Linked DNA regions of Homo sapiens. Each later gene encodes a partner of the first gene's protein in a complex. Each region holds a gene or a part of one and is shown on either strand. Other genes may lie near its edges.

Region 1 (7,985 bases):
ATCTAACAATATCTTATTTTATAAAGAAGCAGAAAAACAGTGATGGCTGGGCCCAGTGGCTCATGCCTGTAATCTCAGCACTTTAGGAGGCTGAGGTAGGATTGCTTGAGGTCAGGAGTTCAAGACCAGTCAGGACAACATAGGGAGACTCCATCTTTACAAAAAATAAAAAATTAGCTGGCCATGGTTAATCCTGGTTAGCACACCTGTAGTCCCAGCTACTTGGGAGGCTGAAGTGGGAGAATGACTTGAGTCTGGGAGGTCAAGGCTGCAGTGAGCCCACCACTGCACTCCAGCTTGGGCAACAGAGCGAGACTTTGTCTCAAACAAAGAAACAAACAAACAAACAGACAGACAAAACAGTGACTCTGAAATCAGAACTAGATTCCTAACCAGCTCTCTTATTTACTGGCTGTGAGCTTTAACCAAGCCATTTATGTGAAGATGTGGTATTTTTATCTGTGAAACGTGAATACTAATACAATACAAAGTACCTCATGCAGCTTAATAAAGAAGAACTACTTTTATTATTATAACTGTAATGAAACTATGTCCTTATTCTGTTGTATTCTGATAAGGATTTCCTTTTGAGATCATAAGCTCAGGGACTCATCTATGAGGAGGGGTGGTGTCTTCCATGAAGGGCTGGATATTTTTGATGATGATCATTCAGGGAAGGCATGTACCCTCAGTTAGGAAACTGAAATTAGACCAGAGAACTACCTCCCTCCCTCTCACTGTCCTGCATCTACAGCTCAAGGAATCCAGATACCCTTACAGGCCCTCCTGAATAGCAAGGTGGAAACAAGGAAGGGGCCACAAGCTGAAGATGATAAGCTGTACGGTGTAAACCAGATCGCATGTCATACAGGCAGCAGATTACAGCAGTGAAGGGTAGAAACCCTGAAGTCAGAACATCTCCCGTTGTGCATTTGAAGCATTAGAAAAGCAAACTCTCCTAGTGGAAGGTGAATTTCAGGACAGAAGGTGGGGTTTGGCGTCTGAGTGCTTCTGCCCAGGTGGAATGGGGCTTATTTCAGTAGATTTCCTTGCAAGTCCTTTAAACTTCTCGAAGCTTTCAGTTACATCTATTGCGCCTCGTGAAAACTCTAAAATAGGAAGTTTGGACATTGTTACTTCTATTTTTATGAGTTAATAAGTTTTAAAGAGATTACATGACTCGCCCAGGATCATGAGATTAGTAAATGGCAATGCCCAAGGAAAATCCAGTTTTTTTAAAAAAAAATTATTCCCAGTCCAGATTTCAATTATCTCCATATTAGGAAAGTAAACAGGGCATGAAGGATTTTTAAACTATCATTTTGCATTATTCCCACCACTTACCCTTTCCACTTCACTCACATCTTAGGTAACTGAGTCAACTGCATTCAAAAGAAACATTTTTGGGGGGAGAGGGGAGGGATAGCATTAGGAGATATACCGAATGTAAACGACGAGTTAATGGGTCCAGCACACCAACATGGCACATATATACATACGTAACAAACCTGCACGTTGTGCACATGTATCCTAGAACTTAAAGTATGATTAAAAAAAAGTAAAAATAAGTAAATAAATAAATTCCTTTAAACAAAAAGAAACATTTTCTGTGTTCCTCACGGACACATCACTGATGGCTGTCTGAACAGATTCAACTCACTATAAATTCAAGCATGCAAAAGGACATAACCTGTACATATCCACCTGGCTCCATAGAGTAATTAAGCAAATAAGTGTCATTGTCTAAAACTATGTGCTTGCTTTTCTGATTTAGCCCTAAGTTTATATATCCATGAGTGGGATCAAAAACGATTTTCCGATTCTAAATTTCTGAAAATCACGATGAGATGTTTAAGTGAAAAAATGCTTTGGCAGCATACAATATTACAAGTTACTCAAGTATTACAAGTTAACAAGTTACTCAAGCTATAGCTCAGAAGCCATATACATATATATGTGTATATATGTAGAGTATATATGTATATATACACATATATGTAGAGTATACATATACGTAGATGTATATATACTCTACATATATGTATACGTATACATATACGTATATGTATACGTATATGTATATATACATCTATCTATCTATCTATCTATATATATATATATATTTTTTAAGATGGAGTCTTGCTCTGTCACCCAGGCTGGAGTGCAATGCCATGATCTTGGCTCACTGCAACCTCTGCCTCCTGGGTTCAAGTGATTCTTCTGCCTCAGCCTCCTGAGTAGCTAGGACTACAGGCTTGCAGCACTATGCCCACCTAATGTTTGTACTTTTAGTAGAGACGGGGTTACACCATATTGGCCAGGTTGGTCTCGAACTCCTGGCCTCGTGATCTGCCCACCTCGGCCTCCCAAAGTGCTGGGTATACAGGCATGAGCCACCGTGCCCGGCCGCAAAATATATTCTGAGGAATAAAAATGATTGTAGTTAGTTTTCCACAGTCCAAAGCAAGCTAATAATATTTAAAGAGTTAAAAGTGTAATATAATCATCGGTCATGTTTCTACAACCAAAGAGAGTTGAAAGGAGTCAAATATCAGCATAATGCAGATAATGTACTCACTGGCATTGTGGGCCTTTATTATTTGGATAATCATTTTCACCTTGTGGAGACTTTTCCAGAATTATATACTTTTATGCCTAATCAGCAAATTAGGCAGTTGAAAAGTATGTATGAAGCAGCTAATATGTGCCCCAATTAGGCTAGGTAGTGTGGGTATATAAAAAGGGTTTATAAAGGGGGAGGCTCCTATTCAAACCTTAGTGGGGTCAGGAGATGCGGAAGTTAATTAACATATATTAAATATTTTTTTACTCACCCACACCTAGAGAAACAGTACTGTTTTAAATGTGCTGTAGGAGTTCAGAGAAATACTGATTAATGTGGTTTGGAATAAATTAAATAATAAAAAGCTTTGCTGAATACAGTTAGTTTAAAAAATATAAAAATATAGGGGGATTTGCAGAGAAATCTGTTCAACTCTTAAAATAATTTTTAATTTATATATGTTTATATAAGAATTCCATTTTATTAACATGAAATACTAGTACCTTTTTTTGGGGATGGAGTCTTGCTCTGTCATCTGGGCTGGAGTGCAGTGGCGGATCTCGGCTCACTGCAACCTCTGCCTCCTGGGTTCAAGCGATTCTTCTGTCTCAGCCTCCCGAGTAGCTGGGATTACAGGCGTGAGCCACCACATTCGGCTAATTTTTCTATTTTTAGTAGAGATGGGGTTTTACCATGTTGGCCAGGTGGGTCTTTAACTCATGACCTGAAGTGATCCACCCGCTTCAGCCTCCCAAAGTGCTGAGATTATGCGTGAGCCACCGCGCCTGGCCCAGTACTTTTACTGATGAAAAATGTAATGTAAAAGGAAGGTCTGTCTTACATACAATAAGTGCTGAATCTGGGTCTTTTTTAAAAAAAGTCATTGAGAAGACTTACTCCTTTCTTAAGTTTTAAGACATTTATTATTGCAAACAGAAAAATTGTACTAGATACCGGGGATATATAAACGAATAATGCCGTTTCTGTCTTCAAGATCTTACTGTTTGGTAGGTGGAAATAAAGTGAACGAACGAAGGCACTGCAAATCAATGTGGGAGGCTCTATAAGCATGGGGCCACAGAGGAAAAGGCTGAGAGGGAAAGCTTCAATGACTAGGTGACTTCAAAAAGGTCATCCTGGCCAGGCACAGTGGCTCACACCTGTAATCCCAGAACTTTGGGAGGGCCAGGCAGGCGGCAGATCGCTTGAGCTCAGGAGTTTGAGAGCAGCCTGGGCAACATGGGGAAACTCTGTCTCTACAAAAAATACAAAAACTAGCCAGACATGGTGGCGCGCGCCGCTCCTCCCAGCTACTTGGGAGGTTGCGGTGGGAGGGTCACTTGAGACCGGGAGGCGGAAGTTGCAGTGAGCAGAGATCACACCACTGCACTCCATCCTGGACGACAGAGCGAGACCCTGTCTCGAAAAACAAAAGACAAAAACAAAAACAAAGGTCATCCTGCAGGACAACCAGGAGGGCACAAATGTGTGTCTGTGGGAAGCTGAAATGTTGGCGGGGGAAAAAAGCAGGGAAAGGCATTCCAGAAAAAGGAAACTGTAAACAGCACACGAAAAAGCATAGTGAATGAATAGGAAGCCTGAGACCAAACTTAGGGTTTCCTACACTTATTTCAAAGCCCTTCATTATCTATATGGAAAGGGGGAGTCTTTAAACACAAATATTTAGATCATATTGACTGAGATTTAGATATAAATGAATGCTAATAATTACTTTTCGTTATTTTGGGGTGTTAAACATTTACTGTACAAGATTGTATTCGTTTTAAGTATCTTCTAACATGAGCCATTTTGTAATGATTCAGTTGTTTATATTCAATTTCAAGTAGAATGCTGATCACAGCGCCAAATGGGTATCTTCTACAGAAAAAGTTATTTTAATAAAGAAAAATATAGTCAGTTTTAGGATTTCCTGAGAGATTATAGAAACAATAAAAGCATTAAAACTGTTAAGTCATTAAATACGAGTACCTTGTATTTTGAAGGCTCTTAAAATTTAGTTTATAAATTGCTTTTACATAACATATGCACTGAAATACCACTTAAGATTAGTTTTGAAAATAGGTGTTCGTTTCAACCACATCATTAGGTATTTTATTCAAAGCTCTTTATAAAAAGAGCTTTACTATGTTCCAGTATAGTAAACTTATCCAGAAAATAAGACAAAAATTTAACTTCATGCTATAGCTGCAAAGTTTTCGGAAAGCGGGATTTAAAACTTCCATTGTAACTTTAACTAGCGGTCATGTCAAATTTCACAACTAAGAACATTTTAACGCATGTAATACTGAGCACAACATGGGCACGTTTTTGTTGCTATGAGAACCTTCTATTTTGTATTAGACATTGCAGCCTTGACGACGCAATGTTTGTGCTATTTTGCGCATGTTTTCCTGCAGCTATTCCTCTCCTCTAGCAATAGTCGAATGGCTCTGGTTTCCTCTTGCGCCCGGCCCAGTTTTTCCGTTTTAGCTTCGGTTGTCATAGGCTGTGCTGTCGCTTTCTCTGGGAAAGGACGGTGAAGACTGGACGGGAGAAACCGGGAGGGCAGGCGCGGCCGTTCTGCAGCAGCCGGGCCGCTTCCCGGCGGGAGGCGGGCTGCGAATGGGAAGCGGGAGGAGGAGGCCGGGCCGCGGGCTGGTTCTATCACCCCCTTGGGAGCCCAGCTCTTCACCTAGCTCTCCGGCGCTTTTCAAAATCTGCAGTTAACAACAAAAATCGAGCAACGCCACGTCGCACAAACAGGACAGGAGGGGGCGAGGGGTGTGTGCGCGCGCGTGCTGTCCCCAAATGGATGAGAAATAAGGGAAAGGAGGGGTTGGGGACCGTGTGATGAAGCAACATGCTAGGCCCGGGACAAGTCCGGCTCCGGCCTCGGGTCTGGAGGGACAAGGCCGGGGGCCGGGTGGCAGACGGGGCCTCTGGTCTTCCCCCAGCGCGAGGGTCGTGGCGCGAAACGGGGACAGGGCGCGCGCTCGGAGCCTCCTCCCCGCCCCGCCCCGCCCAAGGGTCTTCCTCCCCCGGGATTCAGAGCGGCCCCTCCTCCAGGCCAGGCTCGCCGCGGGGCGCTGAGCAGGCCGGGACACCGCGGCCGAGGTTATCGTTAGGCATCTCCCAGGCGACCGGCTCCGCAGCAAGATGGCGGACGAGAAGGACAGGGAAGGTAAGGTAGGGGAGCCGGGGAGCCGCTGCCCTCGCCGCCCGCCGCGACCCCGGGCTGCACGGGGAAGCGCCGGGTGGGGTGGGCCCTCGTCCATCTGGAGTTCCCACCCGCAGGGAAAGGGCGGCCTGAGGAGGGGGCCACCCGGCAGCAGCAGTCGCCCTGCCCCCGTCCCCGTAGCCCGCCCGGCCCGCCGCTCCGCCCCGCCCCGCCCCGCCTCTCTCCCCCGCCCCGCCCCGCCTCTCTCCCCTCTTCCCTCCCTCTTCTCTCTCCCCTCCTCCCGCCTTCTTCTTTCTCCTCCCGCCCTCTTCACCCTCTTCCCCTCCTCCCGCCCCGTCCTCCTTCCCCCTCCCTCGGAGGCCGGGCCTTGCATCCTGCGCGGGCTGCGCCGGAGGCGCCGGCAGGGGGTGCTGATAATGGCGTCGTTGTTCACGGTCGCGGGGAAGCCGCCGCCGCCTCCACACTCTCGCCTGGGGTCTCGGTGCCGCAGGCGCCACGCCCGTAGCTGTCCAGGCTGTGGGCCCCGGGGGGTGGCCTGGGTGAGGAGGAGTTCTGGCCGCCTGAATCTGACGGGATCCTCTGTTTGCGCCGAAACCCCGCGCTGGCGCAGCCTGATGGCGTTCGCGGCCACCATTTTGCCTCCTTAATGAGGACGCAGGAGGACGGTCTGGAGGTCACAGCCGCTGCCTCCGAGCTTCCCGGTCCTCCGAAATGCCTGCCCCGCCGCCGGCTAGCGCCGCGCAATTGGCCTAGTGTCTTGTCTTAAAAAAAAAAAAAGACACACACCCAAACAGCAATTTTAATAACGACGAAAAACCAAAACCTGGTTGAGATCTTGGAACCGCTGTGCGCCGGCCGGGCCTCTCCCAGGGGACCACCCAGCCCCGCGCGGTGGCCGCCTGCAGAGGCGGGACTGCGCTTCGAGGCTTAAGGTCGCCAGTTCGGAGGCATCGATGTGTTGTCTGTGCGGAGAAGCCAAAAAGTGATTACGTTTATTTGCAAGACCGTTCATGTTGTTTTCAGTTCATGGTATGATTAAAACCCGATCCTTTGTTACCATGCCCTTAGGTACTAAAAAATAATTGTGTTTGATAGTTGGCAGTCACCCAAAAATATCCAAAAAGCCATGAAACAGTAAAGGTAAACAAGTAGGAAGTGAAAATAATATTCGTCCTTTGTTTTCTTTCTGGAGTGCTCAAAACACCCTCTCAAACCATTTTTCTCAGCATAGAACCAAGTGTGGTCAGGTTAACAGCTAATATTTACAAGGGAAGAAACGAACCCTGAGATATTTAGTCACTTGTTCCGGTGATCACAGAAAATCGGCGAAGAAACACATGAAACTGCCAACGATCTCTCTATTGATAACAAGGATACCGTGATTTTTATGTAATATTAATCTGAGAAGCCAGGATTATTTTGTAGGTATTAGCTTTACGAAGATGCCCTTACATACAAAGAAAAGGATAATTTTAAAACTTTCCCAGAAAAATGGATGGCTTATTTTTGTTCTTTACCAAAAAAAAAAAAAAAAAAGCCATTAGGAGATAAACTAGCAAGGTAATTATGGATATTTATTTTCTTAAAAAAGACTTGGTTAGGTCAGCATGAGAAAAAACGCACTGGAGTATGGTACAAATACAGTATTTCTCGTTTTTTAAAAACTGAGAGCTTTCCTGATTTTTCAGCTTTTGAACAATTTTTTTCCATTTAAAGTAAATTCAGAGAAACAATTTTGTCGATAACTCATAGAAGTAATGACTGTTAAAAGCTGGATGCCATTCATTCAGAATACATATATTCAATGCCATTATGTAGATAAGGCATTCTACTTAGAACTTTGAAAGATACGAAAATGAAAGACATTGTCTTTGCTTCCAAGGAAGGTGAGATGAGTAAGGGAGATGAGAAATTTACAAATGGGAGGAAATAGTTAACTGGGCTGAGTAGTCTGGGTGCCAACCACTGTGCTAGGTGTGTATCCTTGTAGTCCGTGGACAGCAGCCTGGACATCACTGGCTGCCACCGACCTAATAATGAATCAGTCTTCATTTTAACATGTTTGTAGGTGATTTGTATGTACATTAACTTTCGAGAAGGCCGGGCGCGGTGGCTCACGCCTGCAATCCCAGCACTTTGGGAGGCTGAGGCGGGCGGATCACGAGGTCAAGAGATCGAGACCATCCTGGCCAACATGGTGAACCCCGTCTCTACTAAAAATACAAAAATTAGCTGGGCGTGGTG
Region 2 (7,022 bases), on another chromosome or scaffold:
CAAGAGCTCATTGGGACATTTGATGAGGGACAGTTCAGGGCAGAGGATGCATATTTGCAGAAGCTGCATCCAAGTGGATGGTCAGGGAGGCAAGAGGAGGGCAGTCTTAGAGGGAAGTCTCTAAGACCAGGTAACAGGATTGTATGGCCCAACCTGGCTTTTCAGCAGACACCATCAGCCCTGCACCAGGAGTTTCTCCAGCAGTGCCCAGTGGAATGAAAAACAGAGCACAGGGGCTGCCTAGCATCAGGGACCAGCAGGGCAGAAGGACAGGAGGTTCAGGGAGGCCCAGATGCTGGGAAGGCATGTAGACAAAGATAGGAAGTAGGGCCAGCAGGGAGGCAAGAATCAGGGGTGGAAAGTGGGGGAAAATATCCCTCCTGGATGTCCTCACCAAGAGGGTTGATAAGGATGAGAATGTGGTCCAGCCACGAACGGCAGCCTGGAGTCAGCCTCACATTGTGACTGACCAAATCTACAGATCCCCCCTGTGCTGTGGTGTCTCAGTCAAATCCCTCTGGACCATTAGCAACAGAATCTACTGGAGGCTGGGCACGGTGGCTCATGCCTGTAATCCCAGCACTTTGGGAAGCGGAGGCAGGTGGATCACCTGAGGTCAGGAGTTTGAGACCAGCCTGGCCAACATGGTGAAACCCCGTTTCTACTAAAAATACAAAAAATTAGCCAGGCGTAGTGGTGGACACCTGAAATCCTAGTTACTCAGGAGGCTGAGGCAGGAGAATCGCTTGAATCCGGGCGTTGCAGTGAGCTGAGACCGCGCCATTGTGCCCCAGCCTGGGCGACAGAGCGAGACTCTGTCTCAAAAAAAATAAATTAATTAAATTAAAAAATAACCTACTGGAGCTAGCTTAAGTAGAAGAGGATTTCATGTGAGAAACAGGAAACTCTCATGAGGCCTGGACCTAGGGACATTAGGGACTGGAAAGCCAGCAAGAAGGAGGCAGCCTCTGTCTGTGTCGATCTGTCTGTCCTTTGTCTTTTGTTTTCTGATTCCCAGGTTCCCATCTCTGCTTTTCTCTGTGCATCTGCCTCCTCCCCCTCTTGCTCTCTGCTTAACTATGTACCCAGCCAGCCCACACTCCCTATTCCTCCCCAGCTCAAGCAGCCAGCTCCGATGGGCACTCTCATTCCACAGCCTCAACTTCACATCTCCCACGGGGAGGACGTGAATGGGCAGCTTGGGTCAGGGGCTCCCTCTGCACCAGGAGAAGCTTGTGGTGTGGTGTGGGGCATACACACATGACGGCCTGGAGGGGGTGAGGTGCTCAAGGAAGAGGAGCTGCAGGCTGACAGGCCTGGCTGGGGCTGCCCAGGGAGCACAGTCAGTGGTTGGTACCCACAAGCCCAAGTGAGGATGGGCATACAAAGTCAGAGGCCTGACACAGGGCCACAGTCATAAGATGAGTCAAGATCACAGGCTAGGGAGACCAGTGTGGACACCAGTCCAGTGGGTCCAGCGAGGGTCCCAGCTGTGGCTGTAGGGTCAAGGGATGAAACCCTGTGGACAGGCCCAGGTGGTTGCCAGGAAGCCCTGGAGCAGCCTTGGCGTAAGTATACAAACCCCGAGATGCAGCAGACCCAGGGCTGGGCGTGGGGCATTCCTCAGAGTGCCAGTGGCCACAAGACACTACAGGGGGAAACCTCAGCCAGACCCTGCCCTCAAACAGAGAAAGAAGCAGGCCGTGAAGGAAGAATGCGGTGTTTTTTAGGGAAAACGTGGGGGAAGATGAACCAGCCGTGCAACTCGATGGAGCCGAGGGTGATGGACGATGACATGCTCAAGCTGGCCGTCGGGGACCAGGGCCCCCAGGAGGAGGCCGGGCAGCTGGCCAAGCAGGAGGGCATCCTCTTCAAGGATGTCCTGTCCCTGCAGCTGGACTTTCGGAGTATGTATCCAAGGTTCAGGGGTGGTGGCCAGGGTGGGCCCTCCCTGGCTTTCTCTGCTCCATCTTCAAGCCCCAGGATTCCATGCAAAGTCCACGGTCGAGGTTCCCACATCAGCATTAGGGCCTACCTGGGTTACAAGGCATAGGAGCAGCACAGATGTTTGTAAAGCGTCATACTTAGTGTCTTCATCATTTGAATATCCACGACGCTCCGGATTCTGAATAAGAATAGAAAACAAGATAAAATTGTCCCACGCCAAATCTAAGTGAGCCCCCAAGACTATGCTGTTTCCATCACACAACTCCACATGGGTGTCCTTGGAGTGGGGGTCCCTGGCAGGCAGAGCCTAGGAAGTCCCACGTAGCCAGAAGCAGAGGGTAGGAAGTGTGGGAGAATGAGAGCGGGCACTGGGATGGCAGCTTCAGGGAAGGGGTGACCAAAGACAGGCTGGTAGCAGGAGGAGCACAGGCCCTTGAGGCAGGGAGGCACATCAGGAGTGAGAAGATGTGGCTCAGGACCAGGCGGACCCTCACTGCTTCAATGTCCCGTCTGTGGAATGGGATGGCTGTCATCCCTGTCTCGAGCATTGGGTGGGGGGACAAGGTGAGACAGCACGTGCACAGTGCCTGGCTCACACAGCAAGCCAGGCACAGTAAGTGAAGGCAGAGGCAGTACGAGGGCAGTGAGAGAGGTGGGCAGGGATCCTGAGACCCCCCTTTGTATCATGTGCAGGCAAGGCCACAGCAGAGTGACCTGGTCTGATTCACATTCGTGCTCTGTCTTGGGGCCCCTAGGCTGGCCGGCATCCAGTCAACAACAAGGAGGTATTGAGACCCTGCCTCAGTCCAGCCCTGCTGCCAGAGCCAGGGACACGACAGTGGGCAAGTCAGGCATGGCCCAGGCACAGCCCCACGAAGCCCATAGGCTCCCAGGGCTGACCACCCAATCAGGGAGGGCCCTGAGCCACAGCCCCGGGAGGGGTAAAGGGGCACAGAACAGGTGCGGCAGGAGGGGGCTTTTGCAGCTGACCGCTTGCCCTCTGTTTCCCCTCCCCAACCTGAGGTTCATGCAGCCAGTATTGAACACCTGCCTGTTACATGCCAGGTACTGTTCTGAGCACTAGGGATTCAACTATGAGCAAAAAAAGACAAAAGCCTTGTCCTCATGGAGCTGACATTCAACTTGATGGGGGACAATTAAATAAAATGAAGAAGGAAAATAATACTATTTGCTAAACGTAATATGTGGTGTGGAGGAAAAAAGGAAGGAGAGGAGAAAAGGGAAGTTGGGGGTGGAGTACAGTGTTTTATAGAGTGGCCAGGGGCTTCACCAAGAAGGTAACAATTTAGCAACAACTTGAGGTAGGCAAGGGAGAGAGCTGCTGTGCAGATCCACCAGGGAAAGTGGAGCAGCCAGTGCAAAGGGCCTGGGGCAGGCTGGACCCCGCCTTATCATCTCTGCTGAGGAAGCCACTGTGGAGAGACAGGTCGGGGAGGTCATGGTGTCAGCTTGGAGACAGTGGAAGGTGTTTGGCTCTTACAGTGAGTGAAGTGGGGACCCCGGGAGGGTCCTGAGCAGAAGTGGGACAGGATGGGACTTAGGATTTCACAGGACCCTGCTGGCTGCGTGAGGATAGACCGTGGAGGCCAGGGGCCGAGGCAAGGATCTAGTAAGATGGCCACTGCTGTACTCCAGTGAGTGATGACCACAGGCCTGGCCGAGGTGGTGGCCACAGGGGCAGATTTAGTGTCTTTGTTGAAGATTAAATCGGCTTTTTTTGGCAGTCCTGTCATGCTGGTAACTCATTTAGAGCTAACTGCCAAGTACATCCTGATTTGTTGTGTTGTTTTGGCTTTTCCTCCTGAACTGCTGACACCTGGGAAAAAGCCGGCATGCTGGCGTGTGTGGCAGAGCACCCGGTGTGCAGGAGCCACAGGGGGAGTGCTACTGCTGGGGGGCTGTCAGATCAGGGCCAGAAAAGGCACCTGGAAAATCCAACCCAGGGTTGGGAGGTGGCCGGGAGGCTGGGGCAGAACTGGCCCCACCCTGGAAGCACAGGTGGGAATTGTGGCCAGTATCATTCTGGGAAATCTGGCCACAAACAGGGAGCTGAAGAACAGGCACCAGTCCCACCCAGCCCTGGGAACCCAGGAGAGGCACTACGCAGCAATCCGGCTCTAGGGGAAGGGCAGTCCCACCCAGCCCTGGGAACCCAGGATAGGTGCAAGGCAGCAATCCAGCTCTAAGGGAAGGGCAGTCCCACCCAGCCCTGGGAACCCAGGAGAGGTGCAGGGCAGCAATCCAGCTCTAGGGGAAGGGCGGTGTGCCCCTCTGGACCTGGGTCAGAGAACCCTGTCCTCCCCAGAACTTTGTGCAGGGAGGGGAGCTAGGAGGGGTTCCCCACTTTCCCACTGGGACTTTCACAACCTCACAGGCAGGCTCTGCCCCTCTGAATGAATATTGAAACGGCAGCTGGACTGTATGTTTTTTTTTTGTTTGTTTGTTTGTTTTGTTTTATTGTTGTTGTTTTTTTTTTTGTAGAGACGGAGTCTCGCTCTGCCGCCCAGCCCAGGCTGGAGTGCTAGAGTGCAGTAGTGCGATCTCAGCTCACTGCAACCTCTGCCTCCTGAGTTCAAGCAATTCTCCTGCCTCAGCCTCCCAAGTAGCTGGAACTACAGGCATATGCGGCCACGCCTGGCTAATTTTTTTTATTTTAGTAGAGATGGGGTTTCACCATGTTGCCCAGGCTGGTTTCGAACTCCTGAGCTCAGGCAATCTGCCTGCCTCAGGCTCCCAAAGTGCTAGGATTATAGGTATGAGCCACTGCGCCCAGCATTTTTTTTTTTTTTTTTTTGAGATGGAGTCTCACTCTGTCGCCAGGCTAGAGTGCAGTGGCACGATCTAGGCTCACTGCAACCTTCACCTCCCGGGTTCAAGTGATTCTCTTGCCTCAGCCTCCAGAGTAGCTGGGACTACAGGTGTACACCACCACACCCAGTGAATTTCTGTATTTTTAGTAGAGACGGGGTTTCACCATGTTGGCCAAGATGGTCTCGATCTCTTGACCTCGTGATCTGCCCACCTCGGCCTCCCAAAGTGCTGGGATTACACGTGTGAGCCACCGCACCTAGCCACTAATTTGTATTTGTATTTTTTATTTTTTTGGCATGAATCTCATTTATTGAAAACATTATATTTCACCTTTCTCAAATTGAAGACTGCAAAAAATAAAAGCAGTGCTTTACTGAGTTCTCATTAACCTCAGGAGCAGCAGCGCTGCCTCTCCACGCTCCAGGAAACCCTGGCTCCCGCGTGCCACATCTGTCGCACCTCACTTTACAAAACAGTCCTGAAGCTTAATCAAATAAAACTATTGTACATTAGAAAAAGAGAGCTGGGTGTAGAAAAGCCAGGTGTAAGTTCCCTTTAAGCAAAGGCTGCTCTGCAGTTGGGGCATCTTTGCTTCCTCCAGGAAAAACAGCAGATGAACCCAAAGGGGAACAGGATGATGGCCAGGAGGATTCCCAGGAAGGTGAAGCAGTCCTCCAGCACCCTATCCCTGCAGACGGGACAGCCTCTCATGATGGCGATGGCATTGGCAGGGTACCAAGTGATAGTCCAGCTGTGGTCATTGTAGACCCTGGGGTGGTGGTTGGGTATCCCTGTGATGAGGTAAGGGGAGGGCGGGCAGCAGCAAGGGATGGGCAGCAGGGATGACGCTGTAGCCATGCAAGCTGCATGCATAGTTGCCCTGGCCGGCCCCTAGGTTGTAGGTGGGCAGCCACTCCCACAGCAGGGGCGTGTGGTCCATGGCAGCCCGGCTCAGGTCAGTCGGTCCTGGCAGGGGACACAGTGGGGGACGTGGCAGGGATGCAGCAGACTGGCTGGCTCAGGCTCCTCTGAGGCACAATGCCTCAGCACCGATTTTTATTTTTTTTTATTTATTTATTTATTTAGAGACAGAGTCTTGCTTTGTCACCCAGGCTGCAGTGCAGTGGCATGATCTTGGCTCACTGCATCTCTGCCTCCTGGGTTCAAGTGATTCTGCTGCCTCAGCCTCCTGAGTAGCTGGGACTACAGGGACACCAGCTAATTTTTGTATTTTTATTATAGAGACAGTGTTTTTCCATGTTGGCCAGGCTGGTCTCAAACTCCTGGTCTCAAGCAATCCACCGGCCTTGGCCTCCCAAAGTGCTGGGATTACAGGTGTGTGCCACCATGCCCAGCCACAGGACCAAATTTTTTTTTTTTTTTAAACAGTCTCACTCTGTCATCCAGGCTGGAGTTCAGTGGCGTAATCTAGGCTCACTGCAACCTCTGCCTCCTGGGTTCAAGCGATTCTCCTGCCTCAGCCTCCAGAGTAGCTGGGATTACAAGCGCGTGTCACCACGCCCAACTAATTTTTGTATTTTTAGTAGAGACAGGGTTTCACCATGTTGGCCAGGATGGTCTCCATCTCTTTTTTTTTTTTTTTGAGATGGAGTCTCGCTCTGTCGCCCAGGCTGGAGTTCAGTGGCGCAATCTCGGCTCACTGAAAGCTCCGCCTCCTGGGTTCACGCCATTCTCCTGCCTCAGCCTCCCGAGTAGCTGGGACTACAGGTGCCCGCCACCACGCCCAGCTAATTTTTTGTGTTTTTAGGAGAGACAGGGTTTCACTGTGTTAGCCAGGATGGTCTCCACCTCCTCACCTCCTGATCTGCCTACCTTGGCCTCCCAAAGTGCTGGGATTACAGGCGTGAGCCACCACGCCTGGCCCACAGCACCAATTTTGAAAACTTCTTTCACTTCTGTATTATTTCAGTTCTTTTAATGAGCATATTCTTTTTTTTTTTTTTTTTGAGATGGAGTCTCGCTCTGTCACCTGGATTGCAGTGGCGCGATCTTGGCTCACTGCAACCTCTGCCTCCCTGGTTCAAGCGATTCTCCTGCCTCAGCCTCCCAAGTAGCTGGGACTACAGACGTGCACCACCACGCCCAGCCAATTTTTTGTATCTTTAGCAGAGACAGGGTTTCACCACATTGGCCAGGATGGTCTCGATCTCTTGAACTTGTGATCCGCCCGCCTCGGCCTCCCAAAGTGCTGTGATTACAGGCGTGAGCCACTGCGCCCATCC
Region 3 (7,022 bases), on another chromosome or scaffold:
GGTGCAGGTGAGCAGATGGTACTCCCATTGCCCTGCAGGTGTACAAGCAGAAAGTGAAGCACCTGCTATATGAGCACCAGAACAACCTGACAGAGATGAAGGCTGAGGGCACTGTAGTCATGAAGCTGGCACAGAAAGAGCACCGCATACAGGAGAGTGTGCTGCGCAAGGACATGCGGGCACTGAAGGTGGAGCTCAAGGAGCAGGAGCTGGCCAGTGAGGTGGTGGTGAAGAACCTGCGGCTGGTAGGTGTGGCGGGGGCACCTGGAGGCTGACAGGTTGTTGGGACGGCAAGCCTAGTGCTGCATGAACTCCTGTTTATTCAACAGCAACTGGGAATTCATATTTCTGCATAAGACTTTCTGCATTTTTGCAATTTGTTGAAAAAAAATTTTTTAAAGCATGCATCCAAACAAACCCCATTTTGGGACCAAGTACACAATTCTGTCTCAGACCTGAGCAAAAAATTGACGTCACCGAAGAGAAAAAATCCAGCTTAGGATCTTTCATGTGCTGCTGACACCTGACACCCAGAGACTTTTCCTAGGGAATAGCATCATATGCATTTAGTAGAATGCAAACCAACCATTAAAATATCCAGTGTGTTGACTCCTGGGCACTGTGACAGTTTGTCACACAAGCTGGTCTGATTTTTACTTTTGAGGCTGGGGGTTTCCAGGGCACCATTAAAATTCATCTGTGCACCTGGTTCAGTGGCTCACACCCAAAATCCCAGCACTTGGGAGGGTCAGGTGGGAGAAGTGGTTGAGGCCAATAGTTTGAGACTAGCTTGGGTGAAATAGTTGAACCCCATGTCTAAAAAATTTAAAAGAAAACATTAGCTGGTGTAGTGGCACATGCCGATAGTTTCAGCTACTTGGGAGGCTGAGGCGGGAGGATCCCTTGAGCTCAGGAAGTCAAGGCTGTGGTGAGCTAGGATTGTGCCACTGCATTCCAGCCTAGGTGACAGAGTGAGACAAAACAAAAAGGAAAGAGATCATTTGCTGAGTGTCCATTAGCTGCTAGGTCCTGATCTGATCTCTGACAAAACGCCTGCCCGACTGGGGCTGTTGGTCTAGAAAGGAGAGACAACAGGTGAGTTGGAAGACAAAATAAACGTGCCAGATACAACAGAGTATCTGGTGGGGAAGAGTGCCATAGAAGGATCGAAGTGGGGAGAGGTGGGGTGCGGTTTTGTACAAGCAGTTGACCGGCTGGGAGACGGGATGGGCCAGTGGGAAAGCTCAGAGTGACCAGGAGGAGACTGTGGGAGAGGGTCAGAGCTTGTCCGCCTCGAAAGCCGTGGTGGGGACTGGAGACGGGTCAGAGCTCGTCCGCCTCGAAAGCCGTGGTGGGGACTGGGACTTTGACCCTGGTGGAGTCTGTTGCCCTCTGAGAACTTGGGCAGAGGAGAGATGTGTCTCACTAAGGTTCTTCCTGGCTGCTGGGTTGAGGAGACTTTCTGAACACATTTGCCTCACGCCTGGAAGCAGTCCAGCCTCCACTGAATCTGGAAGAAACTTGGTGACGTTGCTGACTTCGCAGCAAAGCCTGAGAGTGCCGAAGTCTTGAGCCCTCCAGAATTAGCTGGTCTTAACCCAGGTCCTGGATATGATATTGTTACATAATCAGAGTTTCCTGTTGGGTAAAAATATGGCTTTAGGCCGGGTGCGGTGGCTCACGCCTGTAATCCCAGCACTTTGGGAGGCCGAGGAGGGTGTATCACGAGGTCAGGAGTTTGAGACCAGCCTGACCAACGTGGTGAAACCCCGTCTCTACTAAAAATACAAAAATTAGCCGGGCGTGGTGGCGCACACCTATAATCCCAGCTACTCGGGACGCTGAGGCAGAAGAATCACTTGAACCTGGGAGACGGAGGTTGCGGTGAGCCGAGATTGTGCCACTGCACTCCAGCCTGGGCGACAGTGTGAGAGTCTGTCTCAAAAAAAAGAAAAATTACTGCTTTAAAAATAATTTATTTTTTTATGCAAATTTTAAATATATAATGTTTATTTAAATATATAATAATTGTTCATTAAAACTATATATTTATTTATTTTTAGAGATGAGGTCTCACTCTGTCTCCCGGGCTGCAGTGCAATGGTACAATCATAGCTCACTGCAGCCTCGAACTTCTAGTCTCAAGTGATCCTTCTGCCTTAGCCTCCCAAGTAGCTGGAACTATAGATATGAGCCACCACACCCACCTAATCTTTTTTTTTTTTTTTTTTTTTTTTTTTTGAGATGGAGTTTTGCTCTTGTTGCCCAGGCTGGAGTGCAGTGGCACAATCTCAGTTCACCACAACCTCTGCCTCCCGGGTTCAAGCTATTCTCCTGCCTCAGCCTCTCGACTAGCTGGGATTACAGGCATGTGCCACCATGCCCGGCTAATTTTGTATTTTTAGTAGAGACGGGGTTTCTCCATGTTGGTCAGGCTGGTCTTAAACTCCCGACCTCAGGTGGTCTGTCCAGCTCGGCCTCCCAAAGTGCTGGGATTACAGGCGTGAGCCACTGTGCCCGGCAATCTTTAAATTTTCTGTAGAAGATCTTGCTATGTTGCTTAGGCTGCCCTTGAACTCTTGACCTCAAGTGATCCTCCTGCCTTGGCCTCCAGCGTGCTGGGATGACAGGAATGAATCCTTTTAATATGCTGCTTCAGGCAGCAGTGCAGCAGGTTGGAAGCTACACACGGCACCTGGAAAGATCCCACAGCTCTGTGTGGATGTGGCTGCTGCTCTTCAGGCTGTGGGATGGTTTGGCGATGGAACCAAGCGGGTTCAGTGCTCACGACGTCTGTTCATGTTCTCTCTCAAGCTTAGAGGTGACTTTAGTTGAGGGAGGTGAGTTAGGGAATATGGAGGTGACCAAAACCATGAGGAACAGGGTCAGCCTGAAGGGAGCGGGCTTCCCTCTGTGTCCGGCTGTGTAGTAATGGCCGCTTCTCCCTGTGCAGAAACACACCGAGGAGATCACCAGGATGCGGAATGATTTTGAGAGGCAAGTTCGAGGTCAGTTTCCCGTGTGCTCATTGTGTAGGTGCCAGAGACACCCCCGCCCCATCAGAGAGGAATTTACCTCCAGAGCTTGTTAACTCAGGGAGCAAAAACTGGATTAAAACAGCCAAGGCATGCAAGAGAAAGAACATGGAAGTTTCCAAGGCCAGTGGACCCACTCAGAATCCCAGAACAACCTATTTCCATGTGAGTTTGGGAGGCTGTGATTACCACACACATTCCCACTCCTAGCTAAAATCAGTAGTTATCAGCAGGTGGTAGCTATTCAGTGCCGTGGGCAGCCTTCTTAAAATAGTCTTCTCCATGGCTCCTGGTCTGAGAAGGCTCCAATTTCAGAAGTCTCTGTGTTTTACTAATAAAGGCTGATTGTGGCTGGGTGGCCACACAGGCCTCGGTTACTGCTCACTGGGGTCAGCTGACATTCAGCTGTTGGCACCCCCAGTGCAGGGAGCGATTAGCAATGCCTGTCACTGGCAAAGGCAGGCCGACAGTGGTGTGTGTGCTGAGTGTGAGCATCAGCAGAAAAACTCAGTCTAAACCCCTTTGTTCTTCTCTTGCAGAGCTTTTGCCTGCAAGGCTGTTCTGACCACAGTGGGCGTTTTGGGCCCGTTTACAGGCTCCATGTTCTGTAGCCGTAGGGGCACCACGTCTTCCTCTGCTAAGCTGCTGTTTGCTGCTGCCTTTCAGAAATTGAGGCCAAGTATGATAAGAAGATGAAGATGCTGAGGGACGAACTCGACTTGCGGAGAAAGACTGAGCTCCACGAAGTGGAGGAGAGGAAGAATGGCCAGATCCACACGCTGATGCAGCGCCACGAGGAGGCCTTCACCGACATTAAGAACTACTACAACGACATCACCCTCAACAACCTGGCCCTCATCAACTCCCTCAAGGTGCTGTGCGTGGGCTGGGCTGGGGAGGCACACTCTGCCTGTCCTAGAATGTGGGCTGCAGAGTCCTGGGGATCCAGACCCCAGCTCTCCACCCCAACACACCCAGTACTTTTTATAAGATTGTTTGACAATGCCCCTCTCATATCCTTAACTGAAATTCCTAAATAACGTAACCTATCTCTACCTATTGTTAAAAGCAGTCAGGATATTGCCCTCACCGTAGTGCAGAGGGGGAAGTAATGAAGTGTGTTCTGGTTTGTAAAAGCTCAGATGGAACCGCAGTGAGGGCCGTGATGTGGCTGGAGTGGATAGGTGTCATAGTCACTGCCTGCGACAGGTGGATAGGTGTCATCGTCACTGCATGCTGGCAGTGACAGGATTTTCTACAGTAGACAACGGCCCTTGGTGGAATCTTGAACAAAGTATAGTCCTTCAGTCTGCATGGAAGCTGCATTCCCAGAAAACTCAGAATAAGTTGAAGCTGCAGAAATACTGTTTATACATAGAAGACGTCTAGGTGCCAGCATGCCTGAGGCTGGCAGCAGCTGGTGATGGGCAGGAGAGCACCCAGCTCTCACCATGCAGGCCACAGCCCCTTTGGTTCTGCCTGCTGAGCCCCTGCCGGGCCTGTGCTTGTGCCTGCAGGAGCAGATGGAGGACATGCGGAAGAAGGAGGACCACCTGGAGAGGGAGATGGCAGAGGTGTCTGGGCAGAACAAGCGCCTGGCAGACCCTCTCCAGAAGGCTCGGGAGGAGATGAGCGAGATGCAGAAACAGCTCGCAAACTACGAGAGGGACAAGCAGATCCTGCTTGTGAGTTTCCCGCTGGATTCCTCTCCCTCCTTGGCATGAGCTTGCCTAGGCTCAGGAGGGAGGAGCATCACAGGGAGGGGCTTGGCCCTTAGGGCAGGAAGGGAGACGGGGAGGCCTGCATTTCTCCTTTCTCTGCCTCGTGTTCTCCTGGGGAAAGTAAAGTCTGGGGGTGTTTTGGAGACAAGGCCCTCATCTTCACCACGTGCTACCGGCCGGCCTTGGTGAGACTCAGCTGCTTGTGTCCTGGAACCAGGTCTTTCTGGCGATTATTTTTGGCCTTGCCATCTCCCAGGAGCCCGTGTTACTTGGATGACTGTGAATCTTGAATACTTTCTGTCCCCTACTCCCTGTTTTTCCTCCAGTGCACAAAAGCCCGTTTGAAAGTCAGGGAGAAAGAGCTGAAAGACCTGCAGTGGGAGCATGAAGTGTTAGAGCAGCGATTCACCAAGGTGAGTGGCACCACGCTGGCCCTGCAGTTGGCGGTGGGTGTTAGAGCAACGGTTCACCAAGTTCACCAAGGTGAGCGGGCACTAGGCTGGCCCTGCAGTGGGGATGGCACCCCTGCTAGCCAGGGACGGGGCTCTCCTTGTGGCCCCTGGACCAGCTTCAGATGCCTTGGCCAGGTTTCTGGGTTCTGAAGCTGGAGGCCCTGTTCCCTGTAACTCATTCCGCAGCTTCTAAGAGGCAAAAACCTGTGGCCTGTTCTGCATGCATATTCTGCAGAAGGCCTGGGGTCTTGATGGGGAACGGATCACACATGACTTTCGTCCCCTCGAGAGCTCACCTCTGAAAGCACATGAGGGAGGCTCTTAAGTGTAAGTGAAGATGAGTCTCCGGCTGCTCAGTGCTGGTCCTCACACTGGCGAGTTTTATGGGCTCCCTTCCAGGTTTCCTGCATGCTCTCGTGTGGATGTGACTTTGTATGTTACGAACACGGGATCAGGCCATAAGCACAATTTGCTTTTTAATCTCACAGTGTATCAGGCTGCACATAGGAAGCGGTCTCATCCTTTTCACAGCTGCTTGGTGCTGCGTTTTGTGAACGTTTGATCATTTAGCCGACTCCCGTCTGTTTCTAATGCTCTGCTGCTATAAGCATTGCTGCCTCAATCCTTTTAAATTTGTCTTTGTGCACTTGTGTGAGATTGCTTCTTAGGAAAGCCAGTTCCTAGCAGTGGGATTGTTGAGTCTGAGGGTTCTGTTCTGAGGACCCTGATCATCTGTCCAGAGGGCTGCTCTGAGTCACACACCTGCCAGGGTGCGGAGGGGCCGTTTCCATCCTCACCTGCACCAGATCTGACAGGTTTAAACCTTTGCAGAAGTGACTGGGTGGAAAACATCTCATTTCGTGGGCACTTCCAAGATTCGCAGTGAGTGGTAGGGGTGCTCGGTCCTGTCTCTGTCCCTTAAAGACGCTCCTTGCCTCTGTTCAGTTTCAAAGTTCTGGCCAAGGACCAATCCCTGCAGCATGGGCCCCTCAAGGCTTTGTCTGTGGTGTGCGGGGCCAGGGCATCTTATCTTGAGCCGCAGTTATATGTGCTGTTTTGTTCTCTAACCTAATTGAAATTTTTGAACACAAACCGTTGTAGTGGGATTCGCTTCTCAGAAATATCCCATCTGTCTGTCAGATCTAGCCCCACCTTCAGAGACACCTCAGGTCCTGCACGACGTGCATTGCTAGGCTGTGCCAACTCTTGGCACCTAAGGGAAGGGCACCTGCAAGGTAGTCAGTGAGATCCTGAGGACTGCTGTGTTAGACAAGGGGCCCTTCCTTCTCCCTGTGGGTTTTGAGGTGGACATTATTGGGAAGAGGACAGCAGAGACGTGCCTGGGTTGGAGCCTTGTTTTCTGTCACATTTTCTTCCATTTGAATGTGGTTCCTGACAGTGTCCAAGCTGGTGTCTCTTCCTAGAGAACCGAGAGCTCAAATTTATCAGCAAAATTTAGAGACCAAGGCAGTTATTTATTTATTTATTTATTTATTTATTTATTTATTTATTTTTGAGATGGAGTTTCGCTCTTGTTGCCCAGGCTGGAGTACAATGGCACGATCTCGGCTCACTGCAACCTCCACCTCCTGGGTTCAAGTGATACTCCTGCCTCGGCCTCCCGAGTAGCTGGGATTACAGGCGCCTGCCACCACGCCCGGCTAATGTTTGGTATTTCTGATAGAGACAGGGTTTCACTCTGTTGGCCAGGCTGGTCTCGAACTCCTGACCTCAGGCGATCCACCCACCTCACCCTCCCAAAGTGCTGGGATTACAGGCGTGAGCCACCACACGCTGCTCAGGGTGTTCACTTT
Region 4 (6,522 bases), on another chromosome or scaffold:
GTAGGCTGCCTGGAGAGGTGGTGAGCTCCCCATCTCTTGAGGTAGGCAAGCAGAGTCTTGAAGGAGCTGAGGAGGGGCCCAGCACCATATGGGAGTGGAGTGGCCTGGCCCTGAGAACCCACGAAATCCATTGTCTGGCTAGGAGGGGCTATTCCACGTGAATCGCCAAACGACCCCAGACTCCAGTGTCCTGAACGTTCGTTGCTCCTGCCTGCGGGCATGCACAGAAATCTCCTCTCACACGCTCATCCTTTGCTCATCCTTTGCATGTTCTGGCCTCCCAGAAAATCACAGAGCGGTTCTTCCGCAACCCAGCGAAGCCCGCGGAGGAGGACGTGGCAGAGCGCGTGTTTCTGGTCGCGGAGGAGCGCATCCAGCTGCGCTACCACTGCCGTGAGGACCACATCACGGCCTCCAAGCGCGAGTTCCTGCGGCGCACCGAGGTGGACAGCAAAGGCAACAAGATCATCATGACGCCCGACATGTGCATCAGCTTCGAGGTGGGCCTGGGGGCCACGGCGGGCAGGGGTCGGCTGCAGGAGGAACCGGGGCTCTCTGTCTTATTCCAGCCACTTGGGAGAACCAGGATGGGCGCTGGTGAATCCCGGCGAGGAAATTCATCTTTGCTCTTTGGGAAAACCAAAAGTTCCCATCTGGGGACCCTTCTCTTTGAGCTCCTCTGAAAATCTTCCTTTTCCACCAAAAAAGCGAACTCAGCAGGCTAAGACGACTCTGCAGTCCTGGTCAGGGCAAACCTCAGATCCTAGGGAGGCTCTGTGGGAGGGGAAGAGTCTCACTACCTCTGAGGGGCTAGCTTTCCTAGTCAAACGCTCACTCTCCCGGCACAGTCCCCAGCTTTTCTGAGTCTTCAGTTCCTCTTTTATTATTATCTGTATTTTTATAAGTGAGAAAATTAAGGCTCAGAGAGGTTTAGCAACTTGCTCGAGGTCACACAGCTGGAAAGTGGCAGGGGTAGATTTGAACCCAGGTGGTCCTATGCCCCGATCATGGCAGCCTCTCTGTGTTACTAAGGTGGTTGTTGTCCCAGGTGGAGCCCATGGAGCACACCAAGAAGCTGCTCTACCAGTACGAGGCCATGATGCACCTGAAGAGGGAGGAGAAGCTGTCCAGACATCAGGTCTGGGAGTCAGAGCTGGAGGTAGGGTCCTGTGGGAGAGTGAGCAGGTGGGCGGTATCTTTGTTTTTGAGATAGGGTCTCGCTCTATAACCCAGGCTGGAATGCAGTGGCGCAATTATGGCTCTACATCCCGGGCTCAGGTGGTCCTCCCACCTCATCCTCCCAGGTAACTGGGACCACTAGCGCACACCACCATGCCTGGCTAATTTCTTGTTTTTGTTTTTGTTTTTTAACAGATGGGGTTTTTCCATTTTGCCCAGGCTGGTCTCAAACTCCTGAATTCATGCAATCTGCCCTCCTTGGCTTCCCAAAGTGCTGGGGTTACAGGAGTGGAGGAGGGGTGTCTCCATCACGCCCTCCAACACTTCTCATTTCAGGTGCTGGAGATTCTGAAGCTTCGAGAGGAAGAGGAGGCGGCGCACACACTGACCATCTCCATCTATGACACCAAGCGGAATGAGAAGAGCAAGGAATATCGGGAGGCCATGGTCAGTCCCAATCCCTTCTCCAGGCCCCAGCTTTTCCTAGACCCCCCTGGTCTCCAGGGTGGTGGGGACCATGAGGGATTCTGCTGAGAAACCCTCTGTGGGGGATACGGTTATTGATACCATGCGGTCATCCTTGCTGCTGAACTGACCATTTCTATGGTTCATCCCAAAGAGTACTTGGGATTTGGGCAAGGTTTCCCCCCATCCCCAGGGGCTGTAGCCAAGCCAAGGCCTGTGGTTGGGAAAAGAATTAAAATTATGTGCCCACCTCTACTCAGGGCTCCCACTGAGGTTGCACCCTGGGCCAGTGGCCCCAGTGAGCTACCTCTGGCTCCAGGCCTGAGCTCTCCTGCTCTCCAGCACAGGGAGGGCATTCAGGTTACACCTTCAGGTTGCAAGGCCCCGCCTGGTTTTCAGGGCCGGCTTCTGAATCCCTTTCACCAACCAAGTTGAGATTTTAGTTTGGGGGTCGTGAGGCAGGATGGGCATCAGATGACTGTTCTCAGATCCCAGGGGAGGGTGTCAGCCCCCACGTCTCCAACTTCACTGCCCCCTGTCTGCAGATGGAGGACACAGGCCCCAGGGTGGAAAAGAAAAGTGAAGGGAGTTACTGGCAGTTTTTAACTAACATCGTTAATAACCACTACCGTTGACTGAATAAGCATCTACTATGGATTGTCAGGCATCAGGCTGCGTGCTTTACAGACATGATCCTGTCAGATCCTCAGATCCTCAGAGAAGGAAACCAAAGCTCAGGTAGTGAGATACAAATTCATGTAAGAAAAAAAGAGTTGGCTGTCACCAGTAAACACAGGTCCAGAGACCAGCATGTGGGCCCTTCTAAGGCCCATCTTGGAGGCGCCATGCACTGGAACCTGGCTGTGAGGTCTGGCTTTGTGCTGGCACACTGCTGATGCAGAGCTGGTGGAGAGGTCTCTGTAGTTCCTGCTGATCCAGCTATCTGCCCCTCACCTTTACAGGAGCGCATGATGCACGAAGAGCACCTGCGGCAGGTGGAGACCCAGCTGGACTACCTGGCCCCATTCCTGGCCCAGCTCCCGCCAGGAGAGAAACTAACATGCTGGCAGGCGGTGCGCCTCAAGGATGAGTGCCTCAGCGACTTCAAGCAGCGGCTCATCAACAAGGCCAACCTCATCCAGGCCCGCTTTGAGAAGGTGCCACCAGGGCCTTTGTTGGGGAGGGGGGGATCTCAGCATCTGCATCCAGGAAATGGGCCCACGGCTGTCCGCCCACTACCTCACAGGCTTGTGAGGGCCTGATGACGGGATGAATATGTCAATGCTTGGGGTTTCCAAATGACTGAGTTGTTCCTCCTCACACTTGTTTATCGGATAGATGAATCGATAGGGGGATGGATGGATGTAGGTATGGATAGGTGGGTGGGTGGGTGGGTGGATGGATGGATGGATAGATGGGTGGATGAATGCATGGGTAGATGGATGAATAGATAGATGGGTGGGTGGATTGATGGGTAGATAGAGGGATGGGTGGGTGCATGAACAGATGGGTGGGTGGATGGGTGGATAAATGGATGGATAGATGGATGGGAGGATGAATGGATGGGTGAGTAGATAGATAGGTGTATGGGTATAGGTATGGATAGGTGGGTGGATGGATGGGTGGGTGGGTGAGTGAGTGAGTGGATGGATGAGTGGGTAGGTGGATGGATGAGTGGGTGGATGGATGAGTGGGTGGGTAGATGGATGAATGGATGGATGGGTGGATGGATGAATGGATGAGTGGGTGGGTAGATGGATGAATGGATGGATGGGTGGATGGATGAATGGATGAGTGGGTGGGTGGGTGGATAGATGAGTGGGTGGGTAGATGGGTGAATGGATGGATGGGTGGATGGATGAATGGATGAGTGAGTGGGTGGATGGATGGATGAGTGGGTGGATGGATGGATGGGTGGATGAGTGAGTGAGTGAGTGGGCAGATGGATGAATGGGTGAGTGGATGGATGAGTGGGCGGGTGGATGGATGAATGGATGGATGGGTGGATAGATGGATGGATGGGTGGGTGGATGAGTGAGTGGGTGGGTGGATGGATGAGTGGGTGGGTGGATGGATGAGTGGGTGGGTGGATGGATGGATGGATGGGTGAGTGAGTGGGTGGGTGGATGGATGAGTGGGTGGGTGGATGGATGAGTGGGTGGGTGGATGGATGGATGGGTGAGTGAGTGGGTGGGTGGATGGATGAGTGGGTGGATGGGGTGGGTGGGTGGATGGATGAATGGATGGGTGGGTGGGTGGATGGATGGATGGATGGATGGATGATGGATGGATGGGTGAGTGGGTGGGTGGATGAGTGAGTGAGCAGGTGGGTGGATGGATGAGTGGGTGGGTGGGTGGATGGGTGGATGGATGGATGAGTGAGTAGGTGGGTGGATGGACGAGTGGGTGGGTGGATGGACGAATGGATGGATGGGTGGATGGATGGATGGATGAATGGATGGGTGGATGAGTGAGTGAGTAGGTGGGTGGATGGATGAGTGGGTGGGTGGATGGGTGGGTGGGTGGATGGATGGATGGATGGGCGAGTGGATAGATGGACGGTTGGATGGGCGAGTGGATAGATGGACAGTTGGATGGATGAGTGGAAGGACGGATGGACGGATGGATGGATGGATGGATGATGGATGGATGGGTGAGTGGGTGGGTGGATGAGTGAGTGAGCGGGTGGGTGGATGGATGAGTGGGTGGGTGGGTGGATGGATGGATGGATGGATGAGTAGGTGGGTGGATGGAAGAGTGGGTGAGTGGATGGATGAATGGATGGATGGGTGGATGGATGGATGGATGAATGGATGGGTGGATGAGTGAGTGAGTAGGTGGGTGGATGGATGAGTGGGTGGGTGGATGGGTGGGTGGGTGGATGGATGGATGGATGGATGGGCGAGTGGATAGATGGACGGTTGGATGGGCGAGTGGATAGATGGACGGTTGGATGGATGAGTGGAAGGACGGATGGACGGATGGATGGGCAGGGATGGGTGGAGGGATGGGCAGAGGAATAGATGGGCAGATGGCTGGGTAGACAGAGAGATGGTACACTGTAACAACTCCTAGTCCTTGACCCATTTTTGTTGGTCAGGCACACACCATGTAGTTCCCGTGCACTACTAAGATTATGTCACTTAATCTTCACAAGGAGCTCTACAAGGGGAGGGGGGAGTACAATGACCCTCCTTTTGTAGACAAGAAATTGCAGGTTCTGAAAATGCCAGTAACTTGTCCAGAGCTACATGGCTCTCTCAGTCTTGCCCCGTTCTGATCTCATGGACATGACATCCCTATAAACATGACCCCACTGGCTCCCACCCAAGATATTTTGTGGCCCCTGCCTCTGTGGCAGGTATGGATAGGTGGCTTGTGTGAGTGGGGACACTGGGGCCAACCGTCATGGTGCTGTCTAGTGACCCATGGGATTGCAGCCTGCAGCCTGGGTGAAGGTCAGCCTTGTCAGTCCTCCTTCTCTGTCTGCCCTATGACCACAGGAGACCCAGGAGCTGCAAAAGAAGCAGCAGTGGTACCAGGAGAACCAGGTGACGCTGACACCCGAGGATGAAGACCTGTACCTGAGTTACTGCTCTCAGGCCATGTTCCGCATCCGCATCCTGGAGCAGCGCCTCAATCGGTGAGCAGGCAGGGCAGGTGGAGAGAACCCACTGGGAGGCTGGACCACCAGCTTTGTAACCCCTCACCCTCTTTCCTTGCCTCTCTGACTTCAGACACAAGGAACTGGCCCCACTGAAGTACCTGGCTCTGGAGGAAAAGCTCTACAAGGACCCACGCCTGGGGGAGCTCCAGAAAATATTCGCTTGATGTCCCTCCTGGGGCCTCAGCCAGAGCTGCCAGAGAAAGGAAACCTCTTCCCGCAGCCTGGCTCCTGTGTTCCCTCTATCCAGCCAATGCCTGTTTACACAGACACCTGGCCTCACTGCCAGCCCACCTCCCCTACAGCCCTGTTTGTTCCTGCTTCTCATGATTTTCCTGTAAATAAACACACTCTTAATTTGCCATTTGTGCCTTGCGCTTCACAAGCTCCAGCAGCAGCCTTTCTCTTCTTCTGTTATCTATAGCCTGGGACCACCCCCTTCCTCCCCTTGGCCTGTCGTTTGCTTCCTGTCCTTCTCTCCGTTGGAATGTCAGGTCTTCACAGCACCTCTGCAGATGGTCCCACAGCCATCTGCAAACAACTGGTTATATCTCAATGTGACTAGGGTGGCCCACCTCACCAAGTGGGATGGGGAAGGCTAAGATGCATGCCCCAGAATTTGAGGACTGAATCCCAGCTCCTCCTCTTACCAGATACCACTTACCCATCTGTGGAATGGGGTAGCATTGTTGCATTAAATAAGACTTATGGCCAGGTGTGGTGGCTCACACCTGTAATCCCAACATTTAGGGAGGCTGAGGCAGGAGGATCACTTGATCCCAGGAGTTTGAGACCAGCCTGGGCAACATAATAAGACCCCATCTCTAAAAAAAAAAAAAAACAAAGAGCCAGGCATGGTGGCATGAGCCTGTAGTCCCAGCTACTCAGGAGGCTGAGGTAGGAGGATCACTTTCACCTAGGAAGTCAAGGCTGCAGTGAGCCATGATTGCACCACTGCACTTCAGCCTAAGCAACAGAGCAAAACCCTGTCTCAAAAAAAAGAAAAAAAAGACATAAATTATAAAGCAGGGAGGCTGGGAATGGCACATAGAAAGCAGTCATTAAATGTTAGCTTACAAAATAGCCAAAAAACACATGAAATGGTTGTCAAATTCATGAGTCATCTGGCAAATGAAATGTCACAACACCCTCCGGTATGAAAAAAATAAAAAGTACTGGTGACGATGAGAAACAACTGGAACTCCCAAATAGCC

Evidence for each region.
Region 2: DRC8 (region 1) and DRC3 share a complex: the UniProt entries of both Homo sapiens proteins name them as parts of the nexin-dynein regulatory complex.
Region 3: DRC8 (region 1) and DRC4 share a complex: the UniProt entries of both Homo sapiens proteins name them as parts of the nexin-dynein regulatory complex.
Region 4: DRC8 (region 1) and DRC7 share a complex: the UniProt entries of both Homo sapiens proteins name them as parts of the nexin-dynein regulatory complex.

The regions. Positions count from the first base shown.
Region 1 is NC_000001.11:244,964,700-244,972,684, forward strand, and holds the start of DRC8 (dynein regulatory complex protein 8), read left to right. Parts: upstream 1-4,982; 5' UTR 4,983-5,286; coding exon of another isoform or gene 5,287-5,553; intron 5,554-5,555; coding exon of another isoform or gene 5,556-5,625; intron 5,626-5,626; coding exon of another isoform or gene 5,627-5,719; coding exon 5,720-5,744; coding exon of another isoform or gene 5,745-5,838; exon of another isoform or gene 5,839-5,871; intron 5,872-6,112; exon of another isoform or gene 6,113-6,170; intron 6,171-7,809; exon of another isoform or gene 7,810-7,985. UniProt on the Homo sapiens protein: Component of the nexin-dynein regulatory complex (N-DRC), a key regulator of ciliary/flagellar motility which maintains the alignment and integrity of the distal axoneme and regulates microtubule sliding in motile axonemes.
Region 2 is NC_000017.11:17,975,852-17,982,873, forward strand, and holds part of DRC3 (dynein regulatory complex subunit 3), read left to right. Parts: intron 1-1,704; exon of another isoform or gene 1,705-1,730; 5' UTR 1,731-1,747; coding exon 1,748-1,907; exon of another isoform or gene 1,908-2,125; intron 2,126-5,137; exon of another isoform or gene 5,138-5,380; coding exon of another isoform or gene 5,381-5,440; exon of another isoform or gene 5,441-5,809; intron 5,810-7,022. UniProt on the Homo sapiens protein: Component of the nexin-dynein regulatory complex (N-DRC) a key regulator of ciliary/flagellar motility which maintains the alignment and integrity of the distal axoneme and regulates microtubule sliding in motile axonemes.
Region 3 is NC_000016.10:90,032,680-90,039,701, forward strand, and holds part of DRC4 (dynein regulatory complex subunit 4), read left to right. Parts: intron 1-38; coding exon 39-245; intron 246-2,953; coding exon 2,954-3,008; intron 3,009-3,701; coding exon 3,702-3,907; intron 3,908-4,552; coding exon 4,553-4,720; intron 4,721-5,082; coding exon 5,083-5,169; intron 5,170-7,022. UniProt on the Homo sapiens protein: Component of the nexin-dynein regulatory complex (N-DRC), a key regulator of ciliary/flagellar motility which maintains the alignment and integrity of the distal axoneme and regulates microtubule sliding in motile axonemes.
Region 4 is NC_000016.10:57,725,784-57,732,305, forward strand, and holds the end of DRC7 (dynein regulatory complex subunit 7), read left to right. Parts: intron 1-284; coding exon 285-500; intron 501-1,048; coding exon 1,049-1,159; intron 1,160-1,515; coding exon 1,516-1,626; intron 1,627-2,606; coding exon 2,607-2,801; intron 2,802-5,147; coding exon 5,148-5,287; intron 5,288-5,381; coding exon 5,382-5,475; 3' UTR 5,476-6,022; downstream 6,023-6,522. UniProt on the Homo sapiens protein: Component of the nexin-dynein regulatory complex (N-DRC) a key regulator of ciliary/flagellar motility which maintains the alignment and integrity of the distal axoneme and regulates microtubule sliding in motile axonemes.